Linked DNA regions of Homo sapiens: region 1 is linked to region 2. Evidence: fine-mapped expression QTL. Tissue or cell type: cerebellum. Region 2 holds a variant in brackets; the other region holds the start of a gene. All regions are shown on one strand. Distances are from middle to middle.

Region 1 (6,582 bases), 69 kb before region 2:
CACAACACCAGCCCAGAACCACCTCCAGTAAAATGGACACTGTCATTCATTCATGACCTTACTTGATTCTCAAAACCCCCTGCCAGACCCATCTTACAGGTGAGGAGGCTGAGCCTCCAAGCATTCTGTAAGTTGGCCAGTGTCACACAGTCAGGAACCTAGCAGGGTTTGGAGCCGACGTTTTCCACAACAACCTAAGGCCAGTCTCTTCCAAACAAGCGTGAACAATTCAGCCAATCTCCCCCTGCACCAAGTCACAGAGCCCCAGCTGACAAGCCTGAGAATGGCTGAGCTCCCTCAAGTGTGCTGTTGGCTTGTGGGGCCTGGGGTGCAGCCAGCCAGGATGCTGGGGTTCTCACATCACCAACAGCCCCAGCCACAGCAGGGCCACCTCTATCTTCCGTTGAACTGGACTACCCAGCCCCTCAGCACATCCACTGCCTTCCACATGACAAGAGAGAGGAGGTTTGGGGGTGGGGAGGTCTCAGGCACAAGCACAGATTTCACCCTGTTAGGCACCCTGGGGACCTGGCCCTGAGATGAGGTGTCCCCCAGCTACCTCCAGGGGCTGCGTTAGCAGAGAAGTGAGGCAGATCTAGGGCTTCTCAGGCAGGCAGGAGACTTCGGCATGAGGGGCTGGCTACAGGGTCTGCAAAGAGGTGCCACCAACCTGCCACTGAGATGCCTGTGGTCCTGAGATACTCTGAATCCAGGACATCAGAGCCAATCAAGGTCCCACACCCACACCCAGGCAATCCTGGCTGTTAATTGATCAAGACTTCAGGTTTGTGGAAATGAGGGGAATGGGTGTGAGGTGGCTGGGAGGGGAAGCCCCATCTTGTGTTCCCCAGGATGGATGTGGAGCAGAAGCCAGCCTCGGTGACAGCTTGTATGTGACATCTGTCAAACTGAGACAGCTCCCACTTGGGGATCCTGTCCTGGGTCCTGCTCTAACCCAGTCACTGATAATCCAGTGCAAAGTGGGTGAATCCCTTCCTTTCTGGGAACAAGGGCTTCCTTAACCACCGGCGTGCCTGGCAGGTACCGGAGGCAGCCCCGGGGCAGCCCTGGAGAAGCTAGTCAGAATATGAGCTTCTTTCCTCCCCAGCCAGGCTCCCGGAATTATTTCTCAAATCATTTTCAGTCCTAGGAAGTGATAATTTGATTTCACTTTAACATTTTTAACGAGCTGCATCTTCATCAACTGCCAAATTAGGATGAGAGCAAAGATCGGGGAATCACAATGAGAGGTTTTGGAGTGATTGGGGAAATCCAAATTTGGGGTGTGCCTGGGTGGTTGACACCTCACGCCCAGCACCTGCGGTGGGGTCCCCATAGCACCACCCTGATCACCCCCGCGAGTCCATCTCTGCTCAGTGGCTCCTGGCAGGGACACCTCCTCCTATCAACCCTTCTCACAGGCGGGAGAAGGAAGCCCCGGGTCCCACGAGCTGGAGAAATGAGGCCACCCTGCAGGCTGTGATAAGCGGGGAGTTGGACCCGCATAGGCCGACAGCCCAGCTCAACAGGTGGTGGTGGGCTTATCCCTTCCTGCATTATCCGGATAATAATCTGCCAGCCCCATTCAAGTCCGTCGTGGAAAAGTCTGCCCTCAGCTTTGGCATGGGTAAATTGCCTAGAAGCGACTGCAAAGAGGGGGCGTCATCATCTCCCCCGATACATCCTTGGGACAGACAGATGGACAGACAGACACACGCACACGCGCATACACACGCCCGCGCTCCCCACCACACTGCCCCTTCCAGGGTGCGCGATCGCTAGGGCTCTCCAGCCCCTGCCCCTGGCTGGGCTGTCATGGGGGCGCAGCCCGGCGCCGCGGCCCAGCACCGGTGGGAGACCGTCCCCCAGGGACCCCCCCAGGATGGAAGAGGTGGTCTCTCCCGGTCTTCCCGGCTCTTACCTCGCTGGAGCGGCCGCGACCCCCGACCCTGGTCCAATGTCCCTCGCCGGCTGGGCGCGCGGGGCGGGAGGTACCGCGCTAGGCTGCCCGGGACGCCCGCCCCGTCCAGTCAGCCGGAACCGCTCGGCGCCAATGACCGTGGCCGCCGCCGCCGCAGCTCGCGCCCCGGACCCCGAGAGGGAGGGGCGGGCAGGGGGCGGGGCCGAGGGCGGGGCCTCCCCACCCCGGCGCTGCCAGCTGCAGGCGGGGTTTGGGACCGGTCAGATGCGGTCTCCCAGCCCGGGAGGTGAGCACCTCTGGGGTGAGCACCCTTGTGGGGGTGGCAGGTGAAGAGTTGGGGGCCGGCGTGGGAGAGGAGAGGCTTTCAGAGTCCGCATAGGGCTGGGAGACCCTGCCTGGAGTCAGACTCACCTTCAAATTCCAGCAGCTGGGGCTGCAGCCTCTGCCGTTGCTGCTGCTTTTAAATAAGGATGATGATGATGATGATGATGATGATGATGGTGATAGAACAACAATGCCAGCTAGTATTTATTGAGCACTTACTAGTGTAAGCGTTCAATGAGCTTCACATGTATTAAGTCATTTAATTCTCACACGAATCCCATTTTACAGATGAGAAGACTGAGGCACAGGGCGCTTAAGTGAGGAGTCTGAGGACACACAGCTGGAAAATGGCAGAGCCAGGACTGCAGCTCAGGCCTGTCTAAGTGCAGAATCTGAGCCTTTAAAGCCCCACTCTGCTTTTGTACTGTGTGGCCTTAAGCAAAGTGTTTGTCCCTCTTAACAGTAAAATGGTAATATATGTCCAATAAATGGTGGCAACTAACAATAAAACATTTCTTCCTTTCTTAGGTTCTATGTCTCCTTTAGTCTCTGGGTCCTGGACACCCAATAGGTGCTCAATAGATGTTTGTTAATCTATGACTAATTTGAAAGTGGCAGCTGGAGCCAGTGTGGTCAGCCAGGTTGGAAGGGGAACCCAAGGGCTAACTCTTCCTGGCCTGCATAGCCACATATCTTTTATTGCTTTGAAATGGCAGCCTGACCGATATCTTTGTCCGGCACACTTGTGCAGATGCTCACAGACCAGCAGCTTCCCCTCAAAGGCCTGTAAAATCCCTGCAGACCAAGAGGGGGTCAAAGATGTGGCATGTGGAAATATTTGGGGGCAAAGTTGGTTGCTAAATAATGAGACATCAGCAGTGAACATATTAGTTTAAAACTGTAGGGCAGAAACTTTTATAGAAGCATCTATGTTGCTGAGGTCTCCTGACATGGGAGGACTTTGTCACATGTGAATGGGGCCAGGTGGAGTTGGGACAACTGAAGGTTTTTGGAAAGGATACACCACGTGTCTATTCACAGCATTTTAGGCCTATGCAGTTTTCCGCTTTTTCTCCCTTTTCCCACCTACCCCAAGAGTGTTCTTCTCTATCCCCCAGAATACCCTGATGGAAATCCAAGAATGGATTTCTTCTTCTTCGTCTCTGGGCCCAGGAGCCTCTTGCACAGCTCTCACCAGTATGGCAATGATGAATTTACTGTCAATCTCCCTAACTATGCTGGGAGCCCCTTAAAAGGAGAAAGTCTGACGCATAGTAGGCACATTGTATTTGCTGAATGAATGACTGGAAGTTGGACACATCTCCCCAAGACTAAAGCTGTCAAGGAGAAAACCACCAAAGAAAACCTCAGAGGTGGCTGGATCAATGAAATGAAAAGATGAAAACGGGCAAAGCACCCAGGAGATGTGCCTTTTGCAAAGTCTGCAGGTCATTTTCCCAGCAAAGGCCAGAGAGGCTGGCCTGGGATCCATGCCCTGTGGGTCACCTCTGCGGGCCGTCGCCATGTCCTCCAGCCATTGAAGAGTAAGTGTATGGAGTGGGGGTGAGCAGACTGCCTGGTGTTGGGTGTGAGGAAAGGGGTGGGTGGAAGAGGGAATGTCCTCCCTTGTGGGTTAATTGAACAATCCCAGAATGTCCACTTGCCCCCTAGATAGGCCCCCTTTTTGATCTGTGTGACCCTATTCTCTGGATCATCTTGCAATGCTTATGGAGAAATAACAGATCAATTGGTTGCAGAAAACACCCTTCAAAAGGGAAGCTAGTGGCCGGGCGCGGTGGCTCATGCCTGTGATCCCAGCACTTAGGGAGGCCAAGGCAGGCAGATCATGAGGTCGGGAGATCAAGACCACCCTGGCTAACATGGTGAAACCCCATCTCTACTAAAAAACACACAAAAAAATTAGTCAGGCATGGTGGCAGGCGCCTGTAGTCCCAGCTACTCGGGAGGCTGAGGCAGGAGAATGGCATGAACCTGGGAGGCAGAGCTTGCAGTGAGCCGAGATTGCGCCACTGCACTCCAGCCTGGGTGACAGAGCAAGACTCCATCTCAAAAAAAAAAAAAAAAAAAAAAAAAGGAAGATAGTGTCCAGGGGTGCTCAAAGCCTCCTCCCCAGTCATTCTGCCCAAGGCAAGTGGGGAAGTCCCCACAACATGGGTGGTTGAAAAACAGCAATTTGGATCTGATGGAATGAGGTCTTCAACGTGGCTCTGCCCCAACTAGCTGTGTGACCTTGGACAAGTTACTTAACCTCTCTGAGCTTTCGTTCACTTCTCGATAACCAAAGCTGGCTTCATGGTTCTCAAAGCCTTGCTCTTAGGAAAGCTCTGTGCCTGGTTTGATGATCTGATTTTGCCATCTCGAAATTCTTAATCAGTTTTCAACAAGGGGCTACATCTTAATTGTTGCACCGGACTCCATAAAATTATGTCTCTGATGCTGGTGATAACGCCAACCTCACTGGTTTGCGAAAGCGAGATCATGTTTGCACAAGGGTCTGACACATTGGGGGCTCTCAGCAAAAGTTAGTTTCCCTTCCTCTGATCTGGCCGTAAATGATAAATAGAAATTCACCAGGTAGACAGAGGGCTGGGAAGGGAGTTTCAGGCAAAGGGGTCATCCTAGACGAAGGCCTGAGAATATGAAATTACATTCAGGGAAAGGCAAATGGTCTGAGGTAGGGTGGGCATGGGAAATGGAGGGAGACAAAACTGAAGAGACAACTGGGGCCAGAGTGGGAGAGGCTCCCAGTTCTTGTAAGGAGCTTGGCCCTCAGGCCCTCAGGTCTGTGATCAGGGAGCCTGGGACGTGAAGGTGGGTGAGCAACACCAACATCTGTGTCCCACGGTTGGGCCGCGGACTGGTTCAGATAATGAGACAGGCAGTGGGTGACGTGGGCGGGAGCACTGCTCGGAGGCTGCCAATACGGCGTGTTTGAAAGGCTGACTGTAGACATAATGGGAAAATGCTGTAGGTGTAAAAGCCAACAGCTGTGCTTGGGGATTTGGGGACTCCAGGCCTGATGAATAATGGAGCAGCCCTTCCACCCTGGGTCTCTTTTTCTATCCTTTTAATAATTCATGGATTCCCCATTGGTAGGGGAGTTTCATAAAACCTCAGCTCTCTCTCTGAATCCTGGGCCAGTCTGAACAAATCTGATGGCTTCACTCATTAGATCTTAATGAGAAACACACATCCATGTGCACATTATTTGCAGAATGTGCCTGTGTGGATGACAAGGAAGAGGCCCAGTTATGTCTAGGAGGAGGAAATGTCTTCCAGCCAGGCAGCCTCCTTCTGGTCCCTTGGGGGTGGAGGTGGTGACATGTGTCACTTCCAGGTGGAAGCTTTCGGAATCACTGAGTGCTTTGCCATGCTCGTCTCTCTGCCTTTGGGATTGTGGAGACAGTTGTCAAGATGGCACTCTGTCACTCTGAACTCCCACGTGATGACGAGGAGTAGAGATTCCTTACTGACCTCTGGCAGCCACATAGCATGAGCTGTATGTATCTTCTAGTACACACGGACTGGTTTATTTGAGCAAACAGATGTTGCTTCCAGTGTAGAGCAGAGATGGAATTCCAAACTCCAGATCTAAGTGGTCATCAACACTGATGTGGGACGATCAATACCAGACTGATCAATACGAGACCGATCAAGGCACCTTCAATCGTGTTGGGGATGGAGGAGACCAGAGCTTCTCAGCAGATCCAGGTCAAGTTTGAGATGAGCAGTATCTGAAAATGTGCAGAGTGTGCATACGTGTGTATGTCAGGAGGCTGGGGGAGAGGGAAGAGGGCCCCATGAAGTTGGGAGGGGGTGTAGGCAGAAAAACCTGGTCAAGGTCAGAGCAAGAAGAATTGAGCTCACTGTGGAGTTGCCCCTATAAATAATAATATTTATTGGCTAATAATAATAATATTAATCCCCACTACAGCTAATATCAATTACATGCCACGCACTCTGCTAAGTGCTTACCATGTGTTAAGACATTTAATTTTCACAACAGCCCTCTGAGCTAGGACAATTGCTAGCCCCTATTTCCAGATAAGGCTATGGAGGATTAAAAAGGTAATTTGCCCTACATATGGCCAAATTCTAGTGCTCAAAGGAGAATGGCACATTGAGGCTCCATCCACATCAGCATCACCCATGCTGTGAGTGGGCACAACAGCTGGAATCTTTAGGCCAGCTGTCAGGGCTTAAGCATGCAAAAGTTGGTCTCAGCAGGGGACCCAGGGAGCTGTGTCAGAGCCATGTAGCCTGGATGACTGAGCAAACAGGGAAGGCGGAGGTGACAGTCGCTGGCAAGGAGGCCC
Region 2 (8,599 bases):
TTTTAACTGAAATGAGTTGTCCCTTCCACAGCCCGTCAGTCTAAAAGATCAAGAGCTGATTTATACACTGGATTCTCATTTCAAACTAACAAAAACAAAGCCATTTCCTTGAGAATAGTGGCAGTATCAAGTCTGCTTATCCATTCTCCACTTAGCACATGCTTAGTACACTTAACCTACACCCTTAAGCAAAGGAAAAAAATCCATTAAAACTGCTCGGCCAACTCCTGAAAGCCACTACTTACCTCCCAATATGGTTTGTGTCCATAAACCATATCGTGTCCCCACCCAAATCTCATCTCAAATTGCAATCCCCACCTGTTGGGGGAAGGTCCTGGAGGGAGGTGATTGGCTCATGGGGGCGGATTTCCCCTTGCTGTTCTCCATGATAGTGAGTGAATTCTCACAAGATCTGATGGTTTAAAAGTGTTTGGCGCTTCCCGCCTTGTTGTCTCTCTCTCTCTCCCCTGCTCCGCCATGGTAAGACATGCTTACTTCCCCTCTGCCTTCCGCCATGATTGTAAGTTTCCTGAGACCTCCTAGTCATGCTTCTTGTTAAGCTTCTTTACTTCGGAAATTACCCAGTATCAGGTAGTTCTTTATAGCAGTGTGAAAATGGACTAATTGCAGTGGGGGGATAATTTCACTTCAATTCCAGTGGTGTAAAACCTAGGTTAATGATAAAGATAAACCTACCCCAGAAAGCAAACTTAAAAATGAATAGGGGAAAGGCACAGTGGCTCATGCCTGTAATCCCAGTAGCTCGGGAGGCCGAGGCAAGAGGATCACTTGAGTCCAGGAATTGGAGACCAGCTTGGGCAACATAGCAAGACCCTAATCTCTCCCCCCCAAAAAAAAAAAAAAAAATGGCTGGGCATGGTGGCTCACGCTTGTAATCCCAGCACTTTGGGCGGCCCAGGCGGGCGGATCACTTGAGGTCAGGAGTTTGGGACCGGAGTGGCCAACATGGTGAAACTCTGTCTCTACTAAAAATACAAAAATTAGCTGGGTCCGGTGGCACACACCTGTAATCCCAGCTACTCAGGAGGCTGAGGCAGGAAAATGGGAGGCAGAGTTTACAGCGAGCTGAGATTGTGCCACTGTACTCTAGACTGGGCAACAGAGTAAGACTTCATCTCAAAACAAAACAAAACAAGTCAGTGGGAAGACGCTTAATAGGCTATCATATTGCCATATCAGAGAATAAATTAGAATGATAGGAGCAAACCTTCAGCATCAGATAGTATTCCCCAAACAGCCCATGTGCTCCCCTACATTTCATAATCTCCTCTGCTTTGGAGCCACATGACTAGTTCTGGCCAATGGACAGGGAGAGGAAGTGATGTTGCCCTTTTGGGTTGAGGCAATTAAAAGCCCATTTGCCTCCTGTCACTGTGATTCTAGGGGCCACCTGTTCCAGATGGCTCAGTTGCAAGATGGAGGAGGGTTGCCTGATTTGCATCAGACTGTGTGTGAGCAGTAAGGAAATATTGGTTGTGTTAAGCCACTGAGATTTCAGGGATTGCTGTGGCAGCAAGAGTTGTCCATTCTAAAAACTTCCTCCTTCATGTAAGTGAATCACACAATCTCAGCTTTTCTACAAATCCTGTCCTGACCAAGTAGAAGGGCAACAGAAATTCTCTTTGGGTGAGTGAAAATCCACCTTCTGGGCACCAAATGCAGGTTGTACCCACTACACACATCTTGTGTAATCTGATGATGCAGAGTTGTTATTACAGTCCGTCTTCACTCCGTACCAGCAGTAAGTTCTTGGAAACTGTGATTTTAAGCAAAACAACATACAGCAGGTCCTCAAATAACATCATTTCCTTATAATGCTGATGAGGGAGAAAAACCTAGTTTTGTTATACATCATTTCACTTGAAGTCACAGTTTCCAAGAACCTATCGATAATGTTAAGTGAGGTCTTACTGTATATTCTCATTTTATAGGGAGAAAATAGGTTCTCTAAGTTTAAAGACTTGCTCAAAGCCAATCAATTAATATGTGGAACTGAATACTGACACATTTATTTTAAAGATATAATTTTATCTTTTCAATGTATTTTCAAATACATTGATACTGGGATTAATGAAATATTAATCAAAGGGCCCAGAGGATTAAGATGATTTATTGGAAAGCATCATTTCAGTTGTTTTAAGTAACTATATTTCAAAAGCACTTGAATAAAATTTGCTCTTGTAACTATGTTAAACTATGTTTAACTTGGTTAAAGCCAGTCCCCACCATCTGTGTATGTTATGTTACTTGGTGTTTCATTAAATTTTTTTTTTTTTTTTTTTGAGAAGGAGTTTCGCTTTTGTTACCCAGGCTGGAGTGCAATGGTGCAATCTCTGCTCACTGCAACCTCTGCCTCCCGGGTTCAAGCAATTCTTCTGCCCCAGCCTCCTGAGTAGCTGGAATTATAGACTCCCACCACCATGCCCAGCTAATTTTTGTATTTTTAGTAGAGACAGGGTTTTGCCATGTTGCCCAGACTGGTCTCGAACTCCTGACCTCAGGTGATCCACCTGCCTTGGCCTCCCAAAGTGAGTTTGTTTTTAACAGTGGCAGGGCTGAAGCAACAGTGTTGCTGTGTGTATCAGGTAAAGGATCAGTGAGGGCTGAACAAAGGAGGTTATACTTTGTTTCCTATCCTATATTCTACAAATATCTGAGCAGTCTTGCCAACCACATCTCTCTGCTTGGGTGATGGAAACTGATGTCCGAATTGGAAAGCCATCAACAGGCAAGGGTGTGGGAGCCCTGTTTCTGGTCAGAAGGATTCATGAATCCTAAAGGCCATGGCCACCTGATTGGTTTTGCTTTAAGTTCTACAACAAGTTGGCTCCCAGCTGGCTCTTCATTTTCTATTTCCAAGGCATTAAATTCCCATGACTCCTTCTGATAACACGCTCTCCTTCCTCCAAGGCTTACCAAAAGCAGAATGCCAAGCGCCAAGGCTCGTTTTTCTCGTGACAGCACTCATCCTCATCAGCCGCATAGAGCCCGCCTGCTCAGCCACTGGGCCAAGATTACAAAGTCACTCTGAACACTGCAGTGCCTTCAATTGTAACAATAGGATGGGGTTTAGAATCTAGCCAGAGCATTTTTTCCCAGAGAAACGTGTCACCTTTGGCTTGTTGTGTACCAGATAACACGGGAGGTCCTGAAGATCTCAGTTACAGGTATAGGGCACAACCTCACCGCTGCAAATTCATTTTTGGAATAAAGCATATCTTTCTCTCAATGAGCAGTTGTGGTTAATAAATACCTCTGGTTAACCAAAGCCTCACTGTAAAAGGGAAAATAGTGTTAGAGAGCCCCACTGGAAGATAAACATTCAGATACACACGACTTAGGATGTTGGCTATACTGTCCCTATTCAGCTGTCTAGAGCCACTATCCAATACAGTGGCCACTGGCCACTTGTGGTTTCTGAGCAGATGAAATGTGGCTAGTCCAAACTGAGATGTGCTGTAGGTGTGAAATCCACATCATATTTTGAAGACTTAGTATAAAAAATGCAAAATAGCTCATATATATATATATATAAAGACATATATATATAAAGACATATATATATAAAGACAAATATAAAGACATATATATATAAAGACAAATATATATATATGGACAAATATGTATATATATGGATATATATATATATATATATATATATATATATATATAGACAAAGTCTTGCTCTGTCGACCAGGCCGGAATGCAGTGACACGATGACACGATCTCGGCTCACTGCAACCTCTGCCTCCCAGGTTCAAGCGATTCTCCCGCCTCAGTCTCCCGAGTAGCTGGGATTATAGGCACCCATCATTATGCCTGGCTAATTTTTATATTTTTGTAGAGATGGGGTTTCACCATGTTGGCCAGGATGGTCTTGAACTCCTGATCTCAGGTGATCTGCCTGCCTCGGCCTCCCAAAGCGCTGGGATTACAGGCGTGAGCCACCATGCCTGGCCTTCATTAAATGTTTTTATTAATAAATTAACTTCATCTGTTTCCTTTCCAACTTGTTAAAAACTTGGCTGCTAAACGCAGTTTCGGCTTGTATTTTACTTTTGTTGGACAGTGCTGGCTGAGACCCTCTGAATTCCACCGGCTCCTATGGCCCATTCTGGTTCTCTGGCTCTCATTGGTCTAGGGAGCCAGCTTTGGGCTGAGGACCAGGCTCAGAGACCATGGAATGGATGAGGAGACTCTCTTGTCTGTCCCCTATGGGGATAGGAGCAGGTGTCTCTGGCACTTGTGGGCCAATGTGGGCTTACAGCCAAGCCCAGGGCTGCCTGATATCCTGAAGCCCCAGGCAAGGGGCTGTGACGCCAATCTGGTTTCCCATAATGGAGAAACTCACAAAAGGAGAGGCAGAGTTGGCAAGAAGGGCTAGAGCTGGCGGATTTCCCTGCTGCACATGGGAGGTTGAGCTGTGGCTTCAAAGACAGACCCCCAACAAGGCCACTGTCATTCAATTTTACTGCTATTTGTCATTTAGATCATTATTATTATACTTACAAGAGCCAACTGCTTGGGGGAATGTCAGGATGTTACAAATGGCTGCCTGTCTTGTAAAAGTGAGATATGAATGAGCTTTCTTCCAGCCCGGGCACAGGACCAGGGCATGAAAGGGACCAGGGGGTAGCTTCTTGTCTTGTACAAGGCCAAGGGCCTGCAGCAGCTGGAAGGATGTCACTCCAAGGCCA[C/G]CCAGCCTTCCACTCTCTACCAGGGCTTCACATTCAAATGCCTCCCAGAGAGGATGGGACTCCAGGAGCTTTCTAACTTCTGAAATCTCCAGCCTGGGAGAGCTTGAGGACGGCACAGGAAGGTTTTAGATGCCACTGGCAATATTGACAGTAGCTGTAACCAACATCACCACAGTAGGCATGTGCCGAGAGCCAGGCTCTTTAGCTCTGAAGCTCACCTAATCCTCATAAGGCCCATTGCAAAGGTGAGGAAATAAGGTACAGAGAGACACAGTAGCTTGTCCAATGTTACAGAGCTTGCAAGCAGCAACGCTTGGATTAGAACCCTGGTCATCGGCTTTGGCATCCATACTTCTGACCCTTTTTCTATACTGAAGGCCTTGATCCAGTGGGGTTCCCTAGACAGCTATGGTGGGTACTCGCCCAGTTTACATGAGTCCTGCTGAAAAGGGGCCCAAATGCTTAACAGGATCAAAACAGCCAAGATGCCTCCTTCACTCAGGAGCTCTTGGCTCTAAAGGCTTTTTCTTGAAGGAACCCACGGACCTATAAAGTACGTGTGTGGAGATTCACTCTCCTGTTCTCGGCTGCACTTGAACTGGGATTTCACTCTTCATTTTTGTGCTGTATGTATACAGCAAACCCCTAGAGCCCAATCTTAAATAAAAGGCCTGGCCACAAAAGCCTCTTCCCAAGCTGTCATTACAAAATAACGGTGGCCTTTATGCATAAAACACACTCAAGTCCTTTTACTGTTTCAGGGAAACAAAGAATATCCTTTCTTTTTCAAAAAACAAAAACATTTTGATGGAAAAATTACATTTGTTTTGAAAAACATCATCCATTCCCAAGGATAGAACACAGGACCCCAGAGGCACTCTTTACATGTAACATGGTCAAAGCACTGTCTGACGCGTCCAAACAGCACCATTTGGAAAGAAAGAAGACAGGCCTGAACGTTTTCTGGGTGTTCTGATCTGACAGCTGGGATCTTGGGTTTGATAACTGTCTCCTCCACTTGCTACTGTGGGACCCACAACTCCTGGAGCCTTTGTCATGTCTACTGAGACTGTCTGCCCCTACTCAACCCAGACTTCTCCCTGGTTGGGGCTGGGCCATCCACTTCTGTACCCAGCACCAGGACCTCAGGCACGGGGCAGACACAAGGTTGTGTTGGAGAAGTAGTGGATCTGATCCAAGACCACTCCATAGACACTGCCTACCTCTAAAGTGCAAAATCAAAAGGGCTGTTAGAATTGCTGGATTGCTAAGTCTGGAGGGATGATTTAGAAAAATGTTTTCAAGCTGGGCACAGTGGCTCATGCCTGTAATCCCAGCACTTTGGGAGGCCAAGGCGATAGGATCACTTGAGGTCAGGAGTTCAAGACCAGCCTGGCCAACATGGTGAAACTCTGTCTCTACTAAAAATACAAAAATCAGCTGGACGTGGTGGCACATGCCTGTGATTCCAGCTACTTGGGAGGCTGAGGCAGGAGAATCGCTTGAACCCGGGAGGTAGAGGTTGCAGGGAGCCATGATGCACTGCACTCCGGCCTGGGTAAGAGAGTGAGACTCCGTCTAAAACAAATTAAAATAAAATAAAAAAGGTGTTTTCAGGGTTCTGAAGAGGCTCCTGAGGCTCAAAGTGGCACAGTGGCTTGCTGAGGTCATTGGGCTGGTTAACAGCAAGGTCAGGAAGAGAGAGGCCTCAGGTCTCCTGACCGTGTCCTCTTTCTAAAGCATCAGAACAGAGACCAGAGCGTCATAAACAGAAAGCCCCGCAGCAGGGGAGAAGTGAAACACCCCCAGCTCTCAATCGAGATACTTCCTAATTAAACTCCTTTCCAATGGCATAGCCAAAGCTCAGAATACAAGCGGGAAGCAGAATGAGGTGAGAGAGCTCCGAACCCAACTGCTGGAGGCCAGGAGCTGTGTGACTTTGGGCAAGTTGGTTAGCCTCTCTGAGCCTCCATTTCCTCAGCTGTGATCTTGGGATTTCAGCACCCACCTGACAAGCAGGTGGTGGGGATTAAATGGCATTATGTGTATTAAAATGTGCTTACTGCAGCTGAGTATACATAACTCCATACTGCCTAACATTAGAAATAAGAACTGGCCTACCAGAAATAAGCAGGTGGGTGAAAGTTATTCAAGGAAATAAACTAAACTTGGCTCAGAGGGGGACAGAGGAAACATTTTGGTATATGTTAAACACTCAAATGATTGTTGGCACCTGAAAATTCTTAAGCGACAATAAACCTTCCATTCGTTCTTTCAGCAAATATTAATTTACTGTGTACCAGACATAGTAAATCAGAAGTGAATCAGTTACAGAAGTGAATCAAACAGATTTTTAAAAATCTCCCCTTAGGCAATTAAATTGATTTTTTACTGGAGCAGCAAAACTTCAGGCTTCTCTGTTTTCTTATGGTATTAGGACACCCTCCTTGGCCCTCTCCTTTGCTCACTCCCACTGAGTATGGCTGACTGTACATTTCTATGGGTTGGGCACTCTGCTAGGTATCACAGATTACCAAACTAACTGGGATAACAGACAAATACGCTAAGATACGATATCCAAGATCAAGGATCTTACTATGTCACATGGGAAATGACTACAATATTTGAAATCCTTGGACAAAGTGCATTATATAAAAAAAAAAGAAAACTGGCCGGGCACAGTGGCTCACATTTGTAATCCCAGCACTTTGGGAGGCCGAGGTGGGCAGATTACTTGAGGTCAGGAGTTCAAGACCAGCCTGTCCAAAAATTAGCCGGGTGTGGTGGTAAGTGCCTGTAATCCCAGCTGCTCGGGAGGCTGGGGCATGAGAATTGCTTGAACCTGGGAGGTAGAGGTTGCAGTGAGCCAAGATCGTGCCACTGCACTTTAGCCTGGGCAACAGAGCGAGACTCCATCTCAACAACAACCACCGCCAAATAAATAAGTAAAGAAAAATAAAGAAAATTACCACAAGATTAAAAACAAAGAGTCTAGAGTCCAAACTATGTATCTTTTTTTTTTTTTGAGACGGAGTCTTGCTCTGTCACCAGGCTGGAGTGCAGTGGCGTGATCTTGGCTCACTGCAACCTCTGCCTCCCGAGTTCAAGTGATTCTCCTGCCTCAGGCTCCTGAGTAGCTAGGACCACAGGCACACGCCACCACACCCGGCTAATTTTTGTATTTTTAGTAGAGACTGAGTTTCACCATGTTGGCCAGGATGGTCTCAATCTCCTGACCTTGTGATCCGCCCACCTCGGCCTCCCAAAGTGTTGGGATTACAGGTGTGAGCCACTGCGCCCAGCCTATGTATTTTCTATTTAGACAAAAATTGTGGCTCTATGTACAATTGGAGAAAACAGAAAATGATCTCTCTAATAGTAATTACACCAATGAAAGTGCTTTAAAATCTATTTAGAGTAGCCACCCTTTTTTACCTCCCTGTAAGAATGGGAAGCAAACAGCAGAACAGCCTAAGTACCCCTCCCAAAAAAGGTCAGAAGAGGATCAAATGAAAGCAGTGTTTGCAATTGTTTATACTGGCTGCAAACAGAAGCTAATTCCTACTATACATGTTGGATTCAACTTGCTAATATTTTGTTGAGGATTTTTGCATCTATGTTCATGAGAGGTATTAGTCTGTAGTTTTCCATGCTGGTGTTTGTTTATCATCCTTTAACATCCATGGGATCTGTAGTGATGTCCTCTTTCATTTATTAGTAACTTGTGCTCTCTCTTTTTCTTAATTTGACTTGAGGCTTATCAATTTTATTGATGTTTTCAAAGAACTTCCTTTTGGGTTTGTTGACTTTCCCTGTTTTCTATTTTCTATTTCATTGGCTTCTGCTCTAGTTTTTATTTTCTTTTGCTGACTGTGGATTTA

Direction of the effects. Alleles are on the strand shown, and positions count from the first base shown. SD is a standard deviation of normalised expression in the study named.
In carriers of allele C in region 2, the expression in cerebellum of the gene that starts at base 2,055 in region 1 tends to be higher than with G alone (moderate effect, 0.46 SD a copy in GTEx).

What was found. PIP is the estimated chance that this variant, and not a neighbour inherited with it, causes the effect. A credible set is the group of variants that fine-mapping cannot tell apart.
Region 1: it holds the start of CACNG5, and the variant in region 2 is the best candidate, but not a certain one, in a credible set for the expression of CACNG5 in cerebellum (GTEx, PIP 0.86).

The regions. Positions count from the first base shown.
Region 1 is chr17:66,830,590-66,837,171 of GRCh38, reverse strand. CACNG5 (calcium voltage-gated channel auxiliary subunit gamma 5) reads right to left here and starts at 2,055. Exons shown (of 6, transcript NM_145811.3): 1 at 1,922-2,055. RefSeq lists an enhancer at 6,378-6,582.
Region 2 is chr17:66,760,513-66,769,111 of GRCh38, reverse strand. All of the region lies in intron 13 of PRKCA (protein kinase C alpha), which reads right to left. Among named protein-coding and RNA genes, the nearest start is that of MIR634, 22 kb to the left of the region's middle. The variant C/G (reference allele first, on the strand shown) is at 4,719.